3 linked regions of the Homo sapiens genome follow. The protein of the gene in region 3 purifies or fractionates together with the protein of the main gene of each other region. This does not show direct contact. Each region holds a gene or a part of one and is shown on either strand. Other genes may lie near its edges.

Region 1 (8,136 bases), about 65 Mb from region 3:
TCCTGCCAACTCTCAAATTATAGAGACTCTCCAAATGTGCTTATATTTATTGGGGACCCACAGTGCCAGGTGCTATGCTGAGCACTAAGAATACAGTAGTGAGCAAGACTGGGTCCCTACCCCAACGAGCTTACTGTTTCATGGGAAGACTGTCGAGAAAACTGCTCATTCTTTTGAAGTGCGGTAACTGTTCTCATAGCAGCATGGATGCACAAAGAGGGCAGGCACCCATTTCACCCAGTTTTTAGTGATTAGGAGAGACTTCCTGGAGGACATGGTGTCCAAACTGAGGCCTGATGGATGAGAAGGGCTTAGCAAGAGAAATAACTCAGCAGGTGCAATGCAGTGTGTGCCAAGTTGCAGAGGTAAAAGGGAGTATCCCTGTGTTTGGGGAGCTGTGAGTATTTTATACAGCCATTCAGTGACTTACACAAAAGATGCATTCTCAACAAAGCACCTGTAACCAAGAAAAACAAATGCCCAAAGCAACATTCCTATAAAACAGGATTTCTAAAACTTCAGTACTATTGCCACCTTCCTGGGCATTGTTGAACGTTTAGCAGCAACCTAGGTCCCTACCAACTTGCCAGTAGCAAGCATCTAGTTGAGGCAACCGAAAAACTCCAGACATTGTGAATTTCTCCTGGAGGGCAAAATCTGATTCAGATTGAGAACCGCTGCAATAAAATATAATGATAAAGAATTTTATGGGCTCATTCCCAGTACACCAGCTAGGAACACTGGCCTATCCAGGTGTTCTTCTTAGGAGTAGCAATGGCTCATTGCTTCTGCATTTTGCCAAGGAGAGGAGGTGACCAGATGTCTCAGTCAGATACAACCTCCTCCTTTCGCCAACCACCAAATGTTACCCCTAAAAGGTCTGACTAAGCCCTTTCATTCTGCAAGCACCAACCATCCAGAAAAACCTGTGAGACTCATTCTTGACAAGACGCAGGTCCATATTATCTGCATCATTCCTGTAGTTTAATGTAATTAAACAAACATTTATCAAATTGTAGTTGATTCCAAAGCATTTGTTATTTATTGCCACTATATAGTGCACACACAATTGCCAAGATGATGAAAACCATGATGTGGGTAAAAAATGGTTCCTGCTGCCCAGCTCCTCATAGAGATTGGCATCATCCACCTAAGGGAGTGTAGTGAGGGCTTTTGGCTGTGTGGATGTTACTGTTCTAACAGTTTGCTAATAAAAGGCCTAAATGGCAATAAAAGCCCAGCTACTTGAGAAGTGCCTATATGGCCAGACTTTAGAATGTAGGATTGAGGGGCAAGTGCATGGGTGAGGAGGATAGGGAACTGGATTCTTATGGCTGGAGGGCTCTAAGGACCACGTGGTCAGGGGCCTTAATCTTGAGGACACTGGGGAGCCAATGAAGAATTTTAAGCTGGTGAGTGCCATGGCCAGATGAATTCAAAGATATTTCTACAGCACTTACATTTTACAAAGTATGTTTTTGCACACGTCGCCTCATTTAACATTCTGTAGGGAGGGTATTGTTTCCATTTTGCAACTGAGGACTTTAATTAACTCAAGGCCAGAGAGCTAATAAAGCTGTGGCCAGGATTGAGTAGAACCTAGGTCTTCATTTCCATATTGCTACCTGGGTGTGTTAACTGTAGTCAGATAAAAAACATGCACAAAGAGCCAAATAGGGGGAAAGTTGAAGGCAAAGAATAGATGAAAAAGAAGTTGCTTCCAACAGGGACTGGCACTGAATAGTTCGTAGATATATTTCTGGACTTACCACTTTTTTTTAATTCTTTTTTTTTTTTTTTTTTTTTGGAGATGGAGTCTTGCTCTGTTGCCCAGGCTGGAGTGCAGTAGCACGATCTCAACTCACTGCAACCTCTGCTTCCCAGGTTCCAGCAATTCTCCTGCCTTAGCCTCCCAAGCAGCTGGAACTATAGGCAGGCAGCACCATGCCCGGCTAATTTTTGTGTTTTTAGTGGAGATGGAGTTTCGCCATGTTGGCCAGGCTAGTCTTGTACTCCTGACCTCAGGTGATCCACCTGCTTCGGCCTCCCAAAGTATTGGGATTATAGACGTGAGCCACCACGCCTGGCCTTTTTTTGTTATTCTTGTTTCTAAACTGGTTATGCTGCTGCAACCAAGTTACTATTCCCTAGAGAAATAGTTTCCAATCCCTGGGCCAAGACCCTTGGAGGAACCCAAGGTTACTGCAGGGGCCCCACAAATTCCATATGCATTTTCATAATGGACACTGAAAATACTACCATCTATTTTATAGGGACTCAAAATTTTTAAAAAATTCAGTTTTCTTTCAAAAAGATCTTTGGCCAGGCATGGTGGCTCATGCCTGTACTCCCAGCACTTTGGGAGGCCGAGGCAGGAGGATTGCTTGAGTATAGGAGTTCGAGGCTGCAGTGAGCTGTGACTGGGCCACTGCACTCCAGCCTGGGTGACAGAGCGAGACCCTGTCTTGAAAAACAAAACAAAACAAAAGCACAAAAAAACCCACAAAGGGATCTTCATACTTGAAGGCTGGCCATTCCTGTGTATTTCTAAGTATTATCTGAGTATTAGCATGGGCTGGTGGGGCTTAGGGTAATGGTAGAGTTTGGGTGTCCAAAAGCTCTACAGGAAAGGGAGGAATCCAGTGCTTTGTATGTAGTACCACACAGTCATGAGTCTGGAAAGGACTTGGTGAGGTGAGAGAGAGGTAGAAAGGGTCATGTACTTATTTCCCTGCCCTAGAAAGGCAAGCATTCCAATGACTTTCCCCCACAGGCTGGGGATTGTATTTGTTTTTATGGCCAGAATTCAGGGGATACTTCAAAGGGGTCCAAATTTTATTGATTTCAAAACATTGTGTGGCCAAAAATCCAGGTACTCACCTAGAGTCCAAGTTGGAGCACAGAAAAGAGATTGTTTAAGCTCAACCTGGGGCCTGAGCTGGAGACACAAGAGAAGGAAATGAGAGAGAGATGGCCCTGGGCCCTGGTTCTGTAACAGGGCAGTTATCTCATGAAACCTCTGTTCTGTCATCTGTAAAATGGAAATAACATTTCTTTGTCTTGAATGAACCAAGGGATGTAAAGATTCCTGGAGTAGCACTTTGCATCAACAGATGCAAGTTTTATACATATGCATTTTCCTTCCTCCCTTCCTTCCTCCCTCTTTCTCCTTTCCCCTTTCCTTTCTTCCCCTTCCCCTTCCCTTCGCCTCCCCTCCCTTTCCTTTCCTTTTCTTTCTCTCGCGCTGTCACCCAGGCTAGAGTGCAGCAGCTAGAGTGCAGCAGCTAGAGTGCAGCGGCGTGATCTCGGCTCACCTCAACCTCCACCTCCCAGCTTCAACTGATTTTCCTGCCTCAGCCTCCCGAGTAGCTGGGATTACAGGTGTCCATCACCACGTCCGGCTAATTTTTGTACTTTTAGTAGAGATGGGTTTTCTCCATATTGGTCAGGCTGGTCTCGAACTCCCGACCTCAGGTGATCTGCCCGTCTCGGCCTCCCAAAATGCTGGGATTACAGGCATAAGCCACTGAGCCCGGCCCCAGTTATATGTTTAAATCATGAGTTCACAGCCGGGTGCCGTGGCTCACACCTGTAATGGCAGCACTTTGGGAGGCCGAGGCAGGCGGATCACCTGAGGTCGGGAGTTCGAGACCAGCCTCACCAATATGGAGAAACCCCATCTCTACTAAAAATACAACAATTAGCCGGACGTGGTGATGGGCACCTGTAATCCCAGCTACTCGGGAGGCTGAGGCAGCAGAATCACTTGAACCTGGGAGGCGGAGGTTGCAGTGAGCTGAGATGGTGCCATTGCACTCCAGCCTGGGCAACAAGAGTGAGGCTCTGTCTAAAAACAAAACAAAACAAAAATATACCTGGGTATGCTTGAACACAAACACTGCCATACCGTTAAAAATGTTATATATTAATATATAAATAAATATTTACATATATGTATATTAGATATATATGTAAAGATTTCTACTCATAGTACGGTTCTTTTAATTTTTTGTTCTGTTTGGACATTTTCTTTCTTTTTTTTTTTTTTTTTTTTTAAGAGGGAGTATCACTTTGTCGCCCAGGCTGGAGTGCAGTGGCGCGATCTTGGCTCACTGCAACCTCCGCCTCCCGGGTTCAAGCGATTCTCCTGTTTCAGCCTCCCGAGTGGCTGGGATTACAGGCACCCGCCACCAGGTCTGGCTTTTTTTTTTTTTTTTTTTTTTTTTTTTTTTTTTTTTTTTTTTTGAGACGAAGTCTCGCTTTGTTGCCCAGGCTGGAGTGCAGTGGTACGCTCTCTGCTCACTGCAATCTCCGCCTCCCAGGTTCAAGCGATTCTTCTGCCTCAGCCACCCAAGTAGCTGGGATTATAGCGCCCGCCGCTATGCCCGGCTAATCTGTATATTTTCAAGCTAAAAGCTGGGGTATAAAAAAATAAGGGCAAGTTTACTTCCATCCAACTGTGAAGGTTCACGGGGGCACCGTGAGAAGGTTGCCCCCTGCGAAGGTTGCTTTTCCACGGTTCTCGATGCGTTCCCCAAATTTCTCTTCCACCTCCCAGTCGATATCGGAGGCCACATCAGGTGTCACCGAGTCCCGGGCAGCTCCCTCAGGCAGCGGCAGGGGAAGATCCTGAGGGGCACTTGGGACGGGCCCCGCCCCTCCGTGTCCCCATCTGGGGCTGTCAGGGGTGTGGCTAGTGCTGGCAGAAACCAATGGGAGCTGAGGAGGTCGCGTGTTTGCGCGGACGGGGCGGGGCGGCGCGGGGCTGCGTGCAGGCTCGTGGGTCTGCCCCGCCCGCGACGGCATTTTTTCCTTTTCTCCAGCGGCCTCAGGTTCTTGTTACAACTGAGTCCGGGTTGGAGGAGGTGTGGGGCCGCTGCCGCCAGGTAAGTCCTGGCCCGTGCCTCCTCCTGCCGGCCCCGCTTTCTCTGCGGCTCCTGGAACCCGGGCCTGGGGTAAGGTTGGGCTGCGATTTCCGAGGAGCCTCCTTTGCAACCGGGCGTGCTCGGGGCTGCCTGTGCTCTCCACTTCGCAGGCCGGGCCGGGCTCGGCGGGGCGCGAGGTTCCGGGGACTGGGGACAGGGCTCTGCTTCTCGGGCTGCTGCCTCCTTGGGTCGGGCCGGTGCCGCGGGGCCCCCATCGCTGTTGGCGTGGGGTGATTCCTGTTCCAGGGTCATTCAGATCCGAGTGCGAAGCCCGTCCTGGCATCTCCGCGTCTGCTAACGAGCCCCGGGCTTGCAACCCTGCTTGTGCGTCCCTCCCACTCGTGCGTTCATTCAAACGGCAGCCTGAGCGCCCGCGAGCTTCGCACTGTGGGAGAGGGCACACCACATTCGGAATCGCTCGTGGCACACAGGCTGGGAGGAACTTGCCTGGAAAGTTAATGTACCTCTGGGTTTTGAAGTCTTTCTAGGTGCACTTTCATGTAAAGCAGTTGCAGTGATTAGCATTTTTGTTCTGCGCAAGAGTAGCAAACAATGTTGGCACTGCCCTGCGGATTCGGCTTGCGGTGCTACTTGGGTAGTGAGAAAGTTGAAAGGCATGAATCTTGCTTTTGGCTTTGCCGTTGCGAAGCTTTGTGACCGCGGGCTCAGTTAATTAACGTGAAACGAGATGATAATTTCGAAGATTTCTTTTAAACCCGGCTTTTTGTAAGTCTGTGATGAGCTTAGTTTTCCTTCTGCACCTTTAAAAAGAATAGGAAATAGGAAAAGTTCATGAAAGGGCATTATTGAAAGGGCAGTCGGTCCAGCAAGGAACAATAAATGTATGAGAGCACATTAAAGGCTGTGCAATTACAGTTTTAAGACTTAAGACTAAAAAGGGAACAGGAAGTAAAACTGAAAGAACTTACCAAGAATTAAATAAGAGAAACGGCTGGGAGCGGTGGCTCAGGCCTGTAATCCCAGCACTTTGGGAGGCCGAGGCGGGCGGATCACCTGAGGTCAGGAGTTCGAGACCAGCCTGGCCAACATGGAGAAACTCCGTCTCTACTAAAAATACAAAATTAGCCGGGCGTGGTGACGGATGTCTAATTCTAGCTACTCGGGAGGTTGAGACAGGAGAATCGCTTGAATCCAGGAGACGGAGGTTGCAGTGAGCCGAGATCATGCTATTGTACTCCAGCCTGGGCAATAAGAACAAAACTCCGCCTCTAAATAAATAAATAAGAGAAACTTGGAAAGCGTTCAAAAGTACGAACAGCTAGTATTATATTTAATTACCTCCCTTTACAGCTGTACACATGAGGTCAGGTGGGTGAAAATAAATACTAAGCAACCATGTAAGAGAAAATGTAGACAGGATGTGTAACTTAGCATATATCCTAAGTGTAGGGAGAATCCTTTGAAATTCTTAATTTGTATAGACAATTTCATTCAGAAAACTTGTTTTTAACCTTTATTTATTATTTGGGACAGGGTCTTGCTCTGTCACCCAGGCTGCTAGAGTGCAGTGTCATGGTCTTAGCTCACTGCAGCCTTGAAGTCCTGGGCTTATGTGCCCCTTCCACCTCAGCCTGCGGAGTAGCTGGGACTAGAGTCGCGTACCACCATACCTAGATAATGTTTTGGATTTTTTTAGTATAGGTGGTCGTCTCATTCTGTTGCCCAGGCTGGTCTTGAACCCCTGGCCTCAAGCTATTCTCCAGCCTCAGCCTCCCAAGTAGCTGGGATTACAGGTATGTGTGACTAGCCCAGCTAACATTTTTGTTGTTGTTTTTTTACTTTGTATTTTTCACTTTTTTTTGTATTTATTTATATATTTATTTATTTATTTGAGATGGAGTTTTGCTTTTGTTGCCCAGGCCGGGGTGCAGTGGTGCGGTCTCAGCTTACTGCAACCTCCGCTTCCCAGGTTCAGGCAGTTCTCTTGCCTCAGCCTCCCGAATAGCTAGAATTACAGGCGCCCACCACTATGCCTGGCTAATTTTTGTATTTTTAATAGAGACAGGATTTCACCGTGTTGGCCAGGCTGGTCTCGAACTCCTGACGTCAGGTGATCCACCCGCCTCGGCCTCCCAAAGTGCTAGGATTACAGGCATGAGCCACCGTGCCCGGCCTGTTTTGTTTTTAACTTTAAAAAATTTGGACCGGGCGCCGTGGTTCATGCCTATAATCCCAGCACTTTGGGAGTCGGAGGCAGGCAGATCACAAGGTCAGGAGTTCGAGACCAGCCTAACCAACATGGTGAAACCCCATCTCTACCAAAAATACAAAAATTAGCTGGACGTGGTGGCACGTGCCTGTAATCCCAGTTACTCAGGAGGATGAGGCAGGAGAATTGCTTGAACCTGGGAGGCAGAGGTTGCAGTGAGCTGAGATAGCACCACCGCACTCCAGCCTGGGTGAAAGAGCGAGACTCAGTCTCAAAAAAAAAAAAAAAAAAAAATTATTCAGCCAGGCACCAACAGCTTTCTTTCTTTTTTTTTTTTTTGTGATGGAGTCTCGCTCTGTCACCCAGGCCACAGTGCAGTGGCGCCATCTTGGCTCACTGCAACCTCTGCCTCCCGGGTTCAAAGCTATTCTCCTGCCTCAGCGTCCCGAGTAACTGGGATTACAGGCATCTGCCACCATGCCCAGCTAATTTTTGTATTTTTAGTAGAGACCGGGTTTCACCATGTTGGCCTGGCTGGTCTCGAACTCCTGACCTCAAGTGATCCACCCTCCTCCACCTTCCAAAGTGTTGGGATTACAGGCTTGAGCCACCACACCCGGCCAACAGCTAACATTTTTAAAAATAAAATTTTTTATTTCCTCTGCTGGAAAATTCTATATTTATTCTGAATGTATAGAATTCCCTGCCCTGCCCCCCACCAATATTTTTTTAACAGCCCTTGGAAGATAGTGTCTGCAAAGTACTATCTAGAGGAAGGGTCATGTGATCCTTCAGAGAAACCTTAGTTTGAATATTTGGTAGCTTTGACCAGGGAAAGTTACTTTTCTTCTCTGAGGCTGTTTGCTTAGTTGTGAGATGTGGATAATGATACCTCTTTCATAGGACTGTGAAGAAAATGTATAGCAATGCCTAACAGCAGGTATTCAGGGATGACTGCTAGTGTTAGTATTATGTTCATAACGCAGCAAGGAGAAGTAAGGAATTACTGGGTTTTAGCATGGCTTAGAGAACATGGCTGTA
Region 2 (5,967 bases), on a different chromosome or scaffold from region 3:
CTACTACTGTCCTCTCTTTGGGTCTCATGTCAGAAACTCACCAAAGACAGGCTTGTCACCATATAACACAGACACCCCAACCCCCGTAGTGGGAAATTCTGTGCCAGGCCAACTCATAGACTGCAGGCCTGTGACTCGGGCCCTGATTCCTTTCTTTATTCATCTAATAAGTATTTAAAATGAATGCTCTATGCTAAGCTGTTTTATTTATTTATATATTTTTTCAGATGGAGTCTTGCTTTGTCACCCAGGCTGGAGTGCAGTGGCACGACTGCAGCTCACTGCAACCTCCAACTTCTAGGTTCAAGCAGTTCTCCTGCCTCAGCCTCCTGGGTAGCTGGGATTACAGGCATGCACCACCACGCCCAGCAAATTTTTGTATTTTTAGTAGAGACAGGGTTTCACCATGTTGGCCTGGCTGGTCTCGAACCCCTGACCTCAAGTGATCTGCCCGCCTCAGCCTCCCAAAGTGCTGGGATTACAGGTGTGAGCCGCTGCGCCTGGCGCTAAGCTGTTCTGAGTACTGCGCCTCACTAGTAGAGAGAGCCATCATAGACAAGTAAACAGATTGAACAACTCCACATAGGACCATGCATCAAACTGTGATGTAATACGTTTGGGAGCTTTGGCTCCTTTAGAGCACATGCTCAGGAGTGGCTTCTTGGAGAAAATGACCGTTAAGCTGAGACCGGCAGGTGAGTGGGAGGCAGCCACACCGAGACCTGAGGAGAGTGTGCTGGGTCAGGGAAGAGCGGTGCGAAGGTGGGGAGTGGGGAAGCACAGCCAAGACACAGAAAGGAAGCCAGTGTGCTGGAGCCCCCCGTGAACGAGGGGGGACGTAGCTTGTAAGAGGCTGAAGAAGCAAATCAGTTAAATGGTTACAGGGCCTTAGAGGCCTTGATAAGAAATTTGCATTTTTGTCTGCTTTAAGAAGCCATTGAAGGGTTTTAATCAGGCATCGGAGAGCCATGGTAGGATTCATGTTTTTAAAAGATCCCCTAGTTGTTTTATGGACAGAGAACTCTAGGAGGGCATGAGCTGACCAGAGAGCAGTTAGGAGGCCACTGCCACAGTCCGTGGTTTGGAGGAGGGTGATGGCAGTGGGAATGGAAAGGAGTGAACAGAATCAGGATCTGTTCAGAGGTAGGACTGACGAGGTTTTCTGATGGATCCGATCAGACAGCAAGGAAGGGAGTATGATGTGGATGTAGAGGAGGAGGAGTCAGGCTCCTAATGCAGGTCACAGGCTAGAGGCAACACGGATTTGGGAAAGTCAGGGAGGGCGTTGGACTTGGGAGACGAGCTGAATCTCAGATGCGCTGAACATACGCGCCACTAGAATCGAAGGTAAAGCTAGTTCTTAGGGGTTGCTCCCTCTTCGGTCGCACCTCCCTCAAGTGCTTCCTTTCTGCTTCTCTTGCCTTGTGGCAGGTGCTGCCTCTGAAGGGCATTTGCACCTCAGGACTGGGCTACATTAGGACCCTGGGCTGAGAGAACTGACCTGTTTTTCCTTCTGGCCTATAGGCTGGTGGACCACTTGCTGGCTGCTGCCATAGCTTAGACTTTTACAAATTCTGACAGGCATTTTAAAGCCGGGCACAGTGTGACTTACACCTGTACCCCCATCTACTCAACAAGCTGAGGTGGGAGGATTGCTTGAGCCCAGAAGTTCAAGACTAGCCTGGTCAACAGAGTGAGACCCCATCTCTATTATAATAAACATTTAAAAAATGTTAGCCAATAAGCCATTCATTCATCAAACATTAATTGAATACCCAGCGTGTGCTCCAAGCACATGGAAGCATGGAGAAATGAATCACACATGGCTGTGCCCTCAGGGAAGCCTTGTCTGGAAGTGAGAGAGGTTTGATGGTTTCTGTGCTGAAGGGCTCTGCAGCTAGAAGAGGGATGCAGCTGTGTGGGGGCTTGTAGGGTGCTAAGAGGTTGGTGTGCAAGGCACCAGGAGTGCCTGCAGTAGAAGTTCTTATTAAACGCGCACCAGCAGGACTGAAGTCAGAAACCCTGGGAACTTGTGCCTTCCCACACCTGCCTCAGCAGCTGAGTATTCACTCTCACTCACATCTGCCTTCCTGTCATCACAGGGAGGGTGACAGGACGGTTCTACGGAGAGGATGGGCTGCCCACCCCGGCACTGACCCAGGTAGAAGCTGCGATCACCAGAGGCTTGGAGGCCAACAAACTACAGCTGCAAGAGAAGCAGACATTCCCGCCGTGCAACGCGGAGTGGAGCTCAGCCAGGGGCAGCCGGCTCTGGTGCTCCCAGAAGAGGTAAGCAGGCTCCCCTTCTTCTCCTTTCTGCCTGTCCCAAATCCAACTCCTAGGCCATCCTGCCTGCAGTATTCAGTGAATTCAGGAATTGATTGTTAACCCTGGGGAGCTTTTTCAAAATACTGATAATAATTCTCAACTTTGGCTGCATATTAGATCTTCTGGGGAATTGCCGAAATTACGGATGGTCAGACCTCACTCCACTCAACTGAATGGGTTGAGACTTGGACTTGAGGCCTGGGCATCTTTTTATTTTTTCCGAATTCTCCAAAGATCCTGCTGACACAACCTTGACCCGGGAATGAGAAGGCACAAGCAGGATTTCTTGCTTTCTTTGGCCTGCTCAGCCACCCACGGGCTTTGGTTTCCTGTTTGACAGCACAAATCATGCCTATCTATAGGAGAGGGACGAGGAGGTGGGGAGGGTACCTGCAGTGATGGCTTCAACTGCTGTCTTAAAAACAGGTGAGGCGGGCATGGTGGCTTGTGGGCCACACCTGTGGTCCTGGCTACTTGGGAGACTGAGGCAGGCAGGTCGCTTGAGCTCAGGAGTTGGAGTCCAGCCTGGGCAACATAACAAAAAAACAGTAACAAACAAAAAAAACCACTGCAAATTCGGAGTTCTCAGCCTTAAATGAGCGGAGCAAGGGCAAAGGTAGCAGGAAGGAAAGCTCCTTCTTTCCTGGCCGCTAGCTTTGAAGAGACAGCTTCTCCAGTGTCATCTCAAGAAAGAGGGGACTGTGAGAACCTGGCCTGCTCACTTTATGGAGAGAAGCTAAGATAGGCGTGGGCCTTCCTGTGACACAGGCCTGAATGCAGGTAGCCTCAGAGAGCACTGGTCTCTGAGACTCCAGGAGGAGGAGACTCCAGGAGGCCTGCGTGCGTTCAGATGCTTGACTTTGCTTCCTTGGGCCCTGCCTCCTTTTCCCTCCCCACAGCCTTCCCCTGTGTCTCCTGAACCTCTTCTTGCTTTCATGACTGAGTAGTTCAGGCTCTGCCTTCCCCACAAAACCCTTCCAGGGCCACCCTAGTGAACTGCGGGGCCCTATCCCTGTGCCTCAGCTCAGTTTGTTGTCTTCTGTTCACCTGTGTGTGTCCCATTAGACTGAGAGGAACAAGTGCCGAAGGCAGGGACAAGGTGTGGAGTACAGATCCCCAATGATGGGATGGAGGCTGGGTAGAAGAGGGAGGCGTTTGGGTGACAGCCTTGTTCTTGGTAAGCTAGAAGTAGGATGTTTTCTCGCTGGGGGCAGTTTCTCTGACAGCAGGCACCGGAAGCTGTCTGAGGCGTCAGTTCCAAGAACCTCAGTTTCTTTCTTGCAAGGCCTCTGAGTCCATCAGAGACTGAGCCCAGTGCCCTGAGGTGGGCAAGGCCCCTGCCCAAGATAGGAGGGTGCTCAGGTTGTTGGGCCACAGCTGAATCCTCCGTGTCTGAAGCCTAGTGCCATCAAGGACTGGACCTGTGGGGCACAGGACAGCTTGCAGCTACACTCTATGCCAAGGGCTTCCCAGAGAAGGCCGACCCAGGTGGCCAAGGGCCAGGGCCCAATTGCCCACCCCCAGCCAAGTGCCCCAGAGAAGAAGGTGAAGACCCTGACCTGCGCTGGGTTGTAGTGGGGAAGGAAGAGGACAGTCGCACCCAGACACTGCTTCTGAGAAGCTCACAGGCCAGCAGGGGAAGCCCTTTCACAGCTGTTGCCACCAGTGCAGGAACGTGGTGCTGCCTCCTAAGAAGGGGCAGGGCAGGGGCTGGGGAGCACAGTGAAAGGAACCATGGACTGTGCCCTTGGCCTGGGGAAGGTGGTGGTGGCCCTGCAGGGGAAGCTGGAGGATGTTAGGAGAGAGCATGAAGGCTCAGGGGCTGAGCGCTGTAGCCTGCTGCCTTGGGAAACACTCTGGTAGGCTTCTACTTTTCAGAAGGCCTGGCTCTCTGCTTCCTGCTCTCCCCTTCCCAGAGACTCATGAGTTCTCACATTTAAGAAGTCCTCTTTCCGTCTATCCTTAGTGGAGGTGTGAGCAGAGACTGGATTGGCGTCCCCAGGAAGCTGTATAAGCCAGGTGCTAAGGAGCCCCGCTGCGTGTGTGTGAGAACCACCGGCCCCCCTAGTGGCCAGATGCCGGACAACCCTCCACACAGAAATCGTGGGGACCTGGACCACCCAAACTTGGCAGAGTACACAGGCTGCCCACCGCTAGCCATCACATGCTCCTTTCCACTCTAAGCCGTAGCCTCTTCTGTTAATAACACACAGAGAGCTCTGCCAAGCACCTGAGTAGGCCCTTGACACTTGTGTGCCCTGGGATGCCTCCTGGCGCGAATCAGGAGGGTCTGGAAGGACTCTGGCTATATTCTGCAAATGTGGCTCATGCCCCTTACCGTGGCTCGGCGTTGTGGTGCCTGAGGGACAGCCGGCCACCTGCCCAGTACTGGTCAGCTTTTCAACACTATTCCCTTTGACCTACTGGCCATCTTCCTCACAGCCCTCAGATATCAACGGGCACAAATAAGACCAACTCAATTTCCACTTGAATTTACAACCAAAAGCCTGCTGAGTTGATTACAGCTGGGCCAATACAGTACGAGGCAATAACAAATTAGTGTGGGTTGATTCTGGAATTGGAAAAGCTTTTGCTTGTATGGATACAGCAAATCCAGATGTCTCTGAACAAAGCAACAATTTAAAGCAACGACATTTTCTGTCCTTTAAGCACTTAAAATCAGGTGTGGTGTGTTTTCAAAGGCAGAAGTCTGCATTTTGAGCAAAAGGTGGCTTCCCAGCTCTAACAAGGTAACTGGTTAGCATGACATTAAAGCTTGGGCAAGGCTTCAAACTTAAGGTGGCTGGGCTTGCTGCTTGTCCAGTGGTTTGTATGTCCAGCGTCATCTGGCAATGTCATACCTGTTACCTCTTGACTACTTGTGAAGGTAGATGGGGGCAAGGAGTGTTCCTACTTCAGACAGAGAAGTGGGACCAGCACTACCACAGACAGCGCCACGGCCTCTGTGCATCGCCTCATCAGAGCTTCCACCCAGCTCCCTTTGCCGCTCAGTCTCACCCTCAACATCCACCAGCTTCCTCCCTCTCTGTCACTGTCTCCTTTTTCTCCATCATTCATTTCACTAAATCGCTTTCCAGATTCACAGACTAGAAAATGGAGGCTGCCTCCCCTTCACTGGCAGACCCGTACTCACTGCCCCTGTCCCCTTCACTGGCAGACCCGTGCTCACTGCCCCTGTCCCCTCACTGGCAGACCCGTGCTCACTGCCCCTGTCCCCTCACTGGCAGACCCGGGCTTATTGCCCCTATGGCCACAGCTGTTCCTTACACTTGGGCTCTGGCTCATGGCTCCTTTTGCCTGCCCCCGCCATCCTCCTCACCTGCCCCTCTTGTACCTTTAACCTCTCCCCGTCTCCTGGATCTTCCCCCAGGTATGCATCAAACAGCTCACTTCTCTCACATCATAAACATTCCCTCAACTCCAGTTTTGGCTTATACTCACTAGCTTTGCTTTTCAGCTCCATTTGCTCTAAAAATCAGGAGAAATTCTGCATTGGCACATTCCGTGGTCACATCCAGTTCTTACCTAGGCTTTGTCACTCTGGATACTGTGGACCGTGGGGTCCTCCATGAAACCCTCGCTGGGCTTTATCCTGCTTCCCTTTTTGCCTCTGCCCAT
Region 3 (8,814 bases):
AAGCTAGGGTTCCAGCTGCTTCCTGTCTTGGAATCAGACGCTCCTGCTGTCCCCTGGGGACCCTTAGATCAAGCAGCTGGAGATTCCCATGCCCTCGGTAGGCAGGGCCAGTGCTCTTAAATCAGCAGGAAGATGACACGGAAGACTGACCTCCTCCCTCATCTCCCTCAAGAATAAGGGATGGAATGGCTGAGCACGGTAGGTGGCTCATGCCTGTAATCCCAGCACTTTGGGAGGCCAAGGTAGGCAGATCGCTTGAGCTCAAGAGTTTGAGACCACCCTGCACAACATGGCAAAAACCCATCTCTACCAAAAATACAAAAATTAGCCGGGCGTGGTAGCACACACCTGTGGTCCCAGATACTCAGGAAGCTGAAGTCTGAGGATCGCTGGAGCCTGGGAAGGGGAGGCTGCAGTGAGCCATGATTATGCCACTGCATCCCAGCCTGGGTAACAGAGTGAGACCCTGTCTCAAAAAAAGAAAGAAAGAAAATAAATAAAAGAAGAAGGGATGGAAATCTCCAAGGGGGAAAATGAAATGGGAATAGCACTGGGTGGTCACAGGAGGATGGAAAAACCCAAACAACAGCTAGAATAAGAACGAGGCAAAGAAACCGCAGGTTAACAGAAAACCCAAAATAAGGAAGAGAAAATGGTCAAATCCTGGTCAGGGTGATATGTCCATGATCCTGGGAAAACTTGAATAAGGGTAAAAGTCTGTGGTAATGGGGGGAGGGAGTCCCTGAAATCACTCCTTTTCCAGAATACCTTATGATTATTCCACCCCCTAATTAAAAAAAAATCCATAAAATTAGAAACTCAAACTCTGATGTGACTCACTCTGCTGAGCACGCCCGCAATTCTCTTTTACGTGTGTGCTTTCGCTTTGCAGTAAAAGCTTCTTGCCTTTCGTTTCATTCTGACGTGTCCCTGAATTCTTTCTCATGCTGGTGTCAAGAACTTGGAAACTGGCTGGGGCTGGGGTCTCAGTGGCATCCAGAGACCCTCCGGAGACCTCCGACAGCTGTAGGTGATTGGGGGCGCCAATCACATAGGGGTCGGAGAGTGATGGAATGCACCTTAATTTTAATCTGAGTGTCATGGAAAACAGTTGGATGGTTCTATGCAGAGGAGTGACATGATCTGACTTATAGGAAAGATCATTCTATTGCTGTAGGAAAGCAGGGAGGTTAATTTATTAACAGAAGGTATTATGGGTTGAGTTGTGTCTCCTCAGAATATGTTAAATCCTAACCCCTAGTACCTGTGACTATAACCGTAACTGGAAGTGAGGTCTTTATAGATTATTGAATTAAGATGAGATGAGATCATTAGGGTGGGCCCTACTCCAATATGACTGGTGTCCTTAAAGGAGAGGAAAATCCCACGTGAGGACAAGGAGACCATCATGTGATGACAGAGGCAGAGGCTGGGGAGGGTGCCAAGGGCATTTTACAGTAAACCTGAAACACTCGTTCAGGCCGAGATGGAAAGGGGGGATGGATGCCTCATTATACCCTCCTCCCTTTGGAATTCAGGCACAGTTGACCAGCATTAACGTTAAAACAGAGACCTTAAGACTGACAAAGCAGAATTTTTGTAGCAATAAGATACCAATGTGACAGATTGCAAGCCCTGAAAGAAACTGGAGTATTTTACCCCAAATATATTCATTTGGCATATTTTGAAATAGCCTTGCAAAACTGTCTCTTTGGGGAAAAACATCTACATTCTGAGGAGACTCCCCTTCCTTTTCCAGGTCTTTTTCTTGATCCAGGAGATAATTTACTAAGAGTCCGGCACCTGAAGTTTGATAAGAAACATTTACAAAGTCCAGGTGAGGTGGGCCACACCTGTAATGCCAGCACTTTGGGAGTCTAAGGCAGAGGATCACTTGAGGTCAGGAGTTGGAGACCAGCCTGGCCAACACAGTGAAACCCTGTCTTTACTAAAAATACAAAAATTGGCCGGGTGTGGTGGTGCACGCCTGTAGTTCCAGCTACTTGGGAGGCTGAGTAGGGTGGATCGCTTGAACCTGGGGGGCAGAGGTTGCAGTGGGCCAAGATTGTGCCATTGGACTCCAGCCTGGGCAACAGAGTGAGACTCTGTCTCAAACAACAACAACAACAAAAAGAAACATCTACAATTCATTCTCTTTGAAGCCTGCTACCTGGAGGCCTCATCTGCACAACCCCTTATCTTAACCCAGACACTTCCTTCTACTGATTCCAAGTCTTTAAGTAAACTTTCTACCAATTGCCAATCAGAAAATCTTTGAATCCACCTATGACTGGAAGCTCCTCTCTTGGAGTTGTCCCACCTTTCTGGGCTGAACCAACGTACTTCTTACATGTACTGATTGATGTCTTCCGTATCCCTACCATGTATAAAACCAAGCTTAGCCCGACTACCCTGGGCACATGTTCTCAGGATCTGCAGGGGCTATGTTACAAGCCATGGTCACTCATCTTTGGATCAGAATAAATCTCGAATATTTTAGAGTTTGACTCTTTTCATTGACACTCATGCAGCAGACTATTGCCATCATCCAGGCCACACACTGTTAAATGGAAAAACCTTAGACACGTGTATGTTTTAACTGAGTGTATTTGAGCAAAACAAAACAGATTCCCGAATGGGGCAGCCCTCCAAACCAGAGCAGATAAGAGAACTCCAATCAGGAACCTGATCTGACAGCACCTATAGGAAACAGAAGTGTGTGATGGAGACAGCTAATTTGATTATAACTTCATTGCTTAACTGGTTACAGAGTTTCCTGCCATGAAGTAAAGCTCAGTTACTGTAGTTAAACTCCTTACTGGTTTGGTCTGGTAGGTGTAGTTCAGGGTTTCACTCTGTTATCAGAAAGGGGTTCCAATCCAGACCTCAAGAGGGTTCTTGGACCTTGTGCAAGAAAGAATTCTGGGCGAGTCCATAAATTGAAAGCAAACTTATTAAGAAAGGGAATAAAAGAATGGCTACTCCATAGGCAGAGCAGTGGCACTGGCTGCTTGACTGAATATACTTATGAGACTTGAAGCCAGCTGGACTTCCTGGGTCGAGTGGGGACTTGGAGAACTTTTCTGTCTTACAAGAGGATTGTAAAATGCACCAATCAGCACTCTGTAGCTAGGATTGTAAAATGCACCAATGAGCGCTCTGTAGCTAGCAAGAGGATTGTAAAATGCACCAATCAGTGCTCTGTAAAACGCACCAATCAGCAGGATCCTAAAAGTAGCCAATTGCAGGAAAGATTGAAAAAAGGGCATTCCGATAGGGCAGAAACAGAACATGGGAGGGGAGAAATAAGGGAATAAAAGCTGCCCCACCCCCCCACCCCCGCCAGCCAGCAGCAGCAATCCACTTGGGTCCCCTTCCATGCTGTGGAAGCTTTGTTCTTTTGCTCTTCATAATGAATCTTTTTTTTTTTTTTTTTGAGGTGGAGTCTCGCTCTGTGGCCCAGGCTGGAGTGCAGTGGCCCGATCTCGGCTCACTGGAAGCTCTGCCTCCCAGGTTCACGCCATTCTCCTGCCTCAGCCTCCTGGGTAGCTGGGATTACAGGCGCCCGCCACCATGTCCGGCTAATTTTTTGTATTTTTAGTAGAGACAGGGTTTCACCGTGTTAGCCAAGATGGTCTCGATCTCCTGACCTTGTGATCCACCCGCCTCGGCCTCCCAAAGTGCTGGGCTTACAGGCATGAGCCACCACGCCCGGCCTCTTCATAATAAATCTTGCTGCTGCTCACTCTTTGGGTCTATGCCACCTTTAAGAGCTGTAACACTGTGAAGGTCCGCAGCTTCATTCTTGAAGTCAGTGAGACCATGAACCCACCGGCAGGAACTAACTCCACACATAGTTATAGTTATCTCTTGATTATAGGCTAAATAAGGAGGGGATTATTCATGAGTTTTCTGGGAAAGAGGTTGGCAATTGCTGGAACTGAGGGTTCCTCCCCTTTTTAGACCATATAGAGTAATTTCCTGATGTTGCCATAGCATTTGTAAACTCTCATGGCGCTGGTAGGAGTGTCCTTTAGCATGCTAATACGTTATAATCAGCAAATAATGAGCAATGAGGACACAGAGGTCACTTTTGTGGCCATCTTGGTTTTGGTAGGCTTTGGGCCAGTTTCTTTACTGTGTCATCTTATCAGTGCGGTCTTTGTGACCTGTATCTTGTGCCCACCACCTCATCCTGTGGCCAAGAATGTCTAACCCCCTGGGAATGCAGCCCAGTAGGTCTCACCCTCATTTTACCCAGTCCCTATTCAAGATGGAATCGCTCTGGTTAAAAGGCCTCTGACATGTTGAGCCATCCTTTCACCTCAGCCTCTCAAGTAGCTGGACTACAGGTGTGCCACACCATCCCCTGCTAATTTTCCAAAAAAATTTTGGTAGAGAAGGGGGTCTCCTTATGTTGTCCAGGCTGGTCTCAAACTCCTGGGCTCAAACGATCCTTCCATCTTGGCCTCCCAAAGCATTGGGATCACACGCGCGAGCCACCGCACCTGGCCCCACAAGTTTCTTTTAGCACCATGACGGTGGCTTCAAATAGGGCGGCAGTGGAGGTAAGAGGCCATCAGCCACAGGAGGAGCGTGGGTGGGAGGGCAGGAGAGGTCAGAATGCCTTCCAGGGGTTTGGGCCTCAGCGTTGGAGTGATGGAGCTGCCCTGACCTGAGACGGTGGAAAGCGAAGGGGCCTCGCAGCGAGCTGGTTTGGGGTTCAGGGCAGAGGTTGCGCCTGGAGCAGAAAGGCACCTGACTGCTATACTGGGGGCACATAGTGGGCCTCGGCACTCCACCTGCCAGCAAAATCATTTTCTATAACGCCGCAAGCCTAAAAATGGGCCGATAAACACAAACCAGACCCTGAACCAGATCGTTGTTAACTCTTCAACCTGCCTTCCAGCCGAACCTCTTAGGCCAGAGCTGGGACCAGGCCGGGTTGGGCGTCGCGCTTGTCAATCATCTAGAACCGGGTGTGATTGAGCGAGTTGGGATCCCACTGCCGACAGCCGCGCGGAGGCGGTCGGGAAACCGGAAAACGCTTCCAATGGCTGTGTTTCCGGCGACGGCGCGGGGGCAGCTGGGAATCCGGAATGCTGCCCGATGGCCCTGGGTCCTCGCTGTGGGGCAATCCGGGCTTGCAGACGAGGTAAGGTCGATTCCATTTGGCCCGGGGATGGTCACACGCGCGGGGGCCGGAACTGCCGTCGCCGGCGCGGTCGTTGTCGCATTGCTCTCGGCCGCACTCGCGCTGTACGGGCCGCCACTGGACGCAGGTACCCGACCGCTGACCGCCTCTGCTGGCTCGCGGGGGGGAAGCGCCGCCGAGGGGCAGCCCGCGCGCGGGGCCGGGGCGCCGTGTGGCCTGCGGGGCGGAGTAGGGAGAGGACGGAGGCCTCCTGGAACGGCGCGGCGACGGCTGGGCGCGGCTTGGGTGATGGGAGCCTCCGTGCGGGGTGACAGAGGGGCAGAGGGTGGCGCCGGGCCGGAGCCAGTGCGCGTCCCAGGAGCGGCGGAGCCCGCGCGGTGGCCGGGGAACGGGGGGCCGAGGGCCGAGGACGGTAGGAGGGCCCTGGGGCGCCGTGGTGCGCTGGTCGGATCCGTCTGCTCTGCTCTGTCCCCGCTCCCGGTCTGGGAAAGATGCTCGCCAACTGCGGGCTTGCTGTTTGGTCGGAGCTGGATACGGGGGCCCTCCTGGGGCCCAGGGACGCGGCGGGCGTGCAGGCGAGCTGGCCGGCTGAGCGGGCTTCGCGCACACCAGGAGCAGGGCCGTGTCTGCATCCCCAATTTGAAGTCCCAGTGCGACTGGGCAAGTACAGACCCTGCACGTCCTTGGACGAGAGGGACTGGATATTGCGACGCCTGGGCCGCAGAAAAGGACTCCACCAGCCAGGCCTCCTTCGCCCGCCCCCGGTTCGGGGTGTGTGTGTGCGTGTAGGAGGTCCCTTGGGGAGGGAGGCTCACCTGAGTCATCCCCAGAACCTGAAGTGCTGGCCAGATGTCCCCGAGGGCCCTGCCCTGGCCTTGGCTGGTCCTTGCACGCTGAGATGCCTTTTCAAATAGAACGGATAAGGTAGAAAGAATTTAAACAGGAGCTGAGCAAGTGCTTGGAGCCCCATCTCTTCATAGGGTTTTTTTGTCTTTCTGTTTGCCTTGTTGGTATTGGTGTATCTAACATATTTTATACAGGAAGTAGTTCGTGTATATCTCATTTCTCATAAGGAGAGATTGCTGTTATCCACCTTGGTATAGAAGATAAATAGAAGCTCAGAGAAAGTGACTTAGCCAGGATTCTCCAGCCAGTGAGTGGCCGAAATGGTTAAACGCACCATTTGTTGCTGTAGTCATTAGATAGATTTTACCTTGTGTGTATGTTGGGCATCGTCAGAGAGTTTGGCTTTTTGTTTTCATCAGCACACACTGAGAATGCACTGGGTGGCGCTGAGAGGGTACTCTACACTGCACCTCACTCACACCAGCAGGGAGGCTTCTTAACACTTTATTTAGAGATTTATTTGTAGCTCTTTACCTTAAATTCACACACCGTGATTAGTAGCAAGATTTTTCATTGCGCTTGGTTGAGGATTTATTATCAGACTGCCTAAACTTTTACGAAAAGCCAGGTAGAGTTGTATATTACTGAGGCTTTAGGAAATATTTCAGTTAACTTAGGGATTGTGGTTAAATGCTCTAAATTAGTTATAACTCACATTAACTTAAAGTATTTTTGTTTTTTTAAGTAGAATTTTCCAGTACTAAAAGCACTTTTAGCACAAAGCAGCAGTGATAGTCTTCCCCAGACACGCTTCCTTAAAACAAAAGCCAAACAAATTTAACCTGTTCTTCCAGACTCAGAATTGTCTGAAGAGTTACCGAATGGGATACATCTTAAGTCGCCTATTGTCAAGGCCTTTTTATCCTTCAGAACTTTGATCTTTATATGTAAATGTTTCTGTGTTAACATTTGAAATGTTAAGTTCAAATGGTGACGTCAGTAAGCCAGCTGGAACTTGCTTCACTGCCAAGTGCTGGGAAGTTTAGTTGACCTGCTTTGGCCCTTTTGCTAACAGAAGCTGTTTATCTTAGGTGAATGCTGGTGAGCAGCCTGGATTTTACTTTGTGTTAATACAATTCTATTCAAGTGAAAATGCTATACTTCTTATTTTGCCTTAAAATGGCAGCATTTTACACCTACTGTGTGCCCACAAAAATAAAAACAAAAACATGGCAGCACTTTGGTAAAATAGTGTCTTGTGGCCTGGCTTGTCCATTACTAACCACAGCATCTGCACAGGTTTCTCTCTGGGCCCCAGTTTCCTTATCTGTAAAAGAAAGATAAAGTGCTAGTGAGGAGAGTGAATCACGATGTCTTGACTTCATCGAACATGTATCAAGTGTCTTGTTCTGTGCCAGGCTGTGTTCGAGGTGATTGAGTCCCACATGGAAGCAGTCAGTGCTGCAGCTTGCGGATGGTGCCACATTCCTCGTGGGCAGGCAGTAGTAGGGTGCTGATTCTCTGCCAGTCCAGACATAAGAACTTCCTTCTTATGTCCAGGTCAGCCCCTACCATGTAGGTTGTCTGTGTGCTCGAAAGGTTTCAGAACCCCACATGTAATAATAGTTACTTTTGGTATCACTTTGAATTTTTAAAATTATGTAGCAAAAAAGTTACTATTAATTATATTATGAGTTTAACATAATTTTAAGCTAGCTTCCATTTGAGAGCCGTTGTTCTCATGTGTAAATCTTGAAATATTCAGTTTCTGGATGGCGCTTCTTGTTCTCCAGGGTTCTTAGACCCAGCCCTTACGGTAGCATCATGGCCAGGGAACTGGGAATCTCACAAAGTCTTAAGATTTCACAACGGAACAGGAGCAGGAGGAGGCGACTCCCGCTGGTGGGTTGATCAAGTTGCTGTGAAGGTGGTTTGCACATTTTGGGCTTCAAAACACTACCTTCTGTATAAGATAAAGGAATAGCTCAGAACAGGATTCCCCCCGTGTTTTCTTCCTAGCTATGATAAAGATTGCCGTGTGAATGCAGTGGGTTTTACACACTCAGAATTGATATTTTTGGCTTGTGGTAAATGGGACTTTAATGCTTAACCTGCTGTAGAAAAATCCGCCTTAGAAAGTGGCCCTTATTCGTATATTGTATTCGATGTTTGAGCCCCCTGATATCTTATCATTTTAACAAAGCTTACCTTGAAGTGCAGGAAAAATTGTATGTGTTCTTGTCATTATTTGAATAACAACAAAAATCAGTATTAGCTTTAAAGCCTGTAGGTTTTAAGCGTATCCTTGCCTGGACTAGCATATCTCCTCTTTCTCAACCAAAAAGATCAGAAAGGTGCTATCCCAGTACCAAAAGTACTGGGAGGACTTTCAGCAGAGTGTGACGCAGAAGGGAAGCTTTTCCGCTCTGGGGAGCAGATGCGGAGAGGACAAGCACTTGGAACACAGCATCCCTGGGAGCTCTGGTGCTGCAGTTGTGACCCCGAGGCGGCCCTGCTGTGCCCTCCTGGGAGTGCTGGGCGACACTGGTTGCAGAGGGGCATTGGTGCTCCCCTCCACCTGACAGGTGCTCCACCTGGACTCGTGGCTGCAGCTTAATTTTGTGTCAGATCCTTTCCGGTAATGTATAGGTTATTTCAACTATGAGGCAAAGTGCAAATGGGTAGTTCAGTGTGGGTTTATGGTATTTGCCCTTTTTGATATAAACATTAAATATTTCATACCTCACCTATAGTACTTTTTTTAAGACTTAAATCTGAAATTTAAGATACAGATGTTTGTAAGATATGAATCT

Evidence for each region.
Region 1: the proteins of NAXD (region 3) and SLC25A30 purify together in Homo sapiens (affinity purification with mass spectrometry; 2 studies listed by BioGRID and IntAct, with this or other methods). This does not show direct contact.
Region 2: the proteins of NAXD (region 3) and CYB5D2 purify together in Homo sapiens (affinity purification with mass spectrometry; 2 studies listed by BioGRID and IntAct, with this or other methods). This does not show direct contact.

Annotation. Positions count from the first base shown.
Region 1 is NC_000013.11:45,415,050-45,423,185, reverse strand, and holds the start of SLC25A30 (kidney mitochondrial carrier protein 1), read left to right. Parts: upstream 1-4,812; 5' UTR 4,813-4,886; exon of another isoform or gene 4,887-5,024; intron 5,025-8,136. UniProt on the Homo sapiens protein: Antiporter that transports inorganic anions (sulfate, sulfite, thiosulfate and phosphate) and, to a lesser extent, a variety of dicarboxylates (e.g. malonate, malate and citramalate) and, even more so, aspartate.
Region 2 is NC_000017.11:4,152,572-4,158,538, forward strand, and holds the end of CYB5D2 (neuferricin isoform 1 precursor), read left to right. Parts: intron 1-2,102; coding exon 2,103-2,289; exon of another isoform or gene 2,290-2,352; intron 2,353-2,718; exon of another isoform or gene 2,719-2,853; intron 2,854-3,375; exon of another isoform or gene 3,376-3,622; intron 3,623-4,294; coding exon 4,295-4,511; 3' UTR 4,512-5,126; downstream 5,127-5,967. UniProt on the Homo sapiens protein: Heme-binding protein which promotes neuronal but not astrocyte differentiation.
Region 3 is NC_000013.11:110,610,493-110,619,306, forward strand, and holds the start of NAXD (ATP-dependent (S)-NAD(P)H-hydrate dehydratase), read left to right. Parts: upstream 1-5,052; 5' UTR 5,053-5,099; coding exon of another isoform or gene 5,100-5,109; coding exon 5,110-5,155; exon of another isoform or gene 5,156-5,182; coding exon of another isoform or gene 5,183-5,282; exon of another isoform or gene 5,283-5,861; intron 5,862-8,814. UniProt on the Homo sapiens protein: Catalyzes the dehydration of the S-form of NAD(P)HX at the expense of ATP, which is converted to ADP.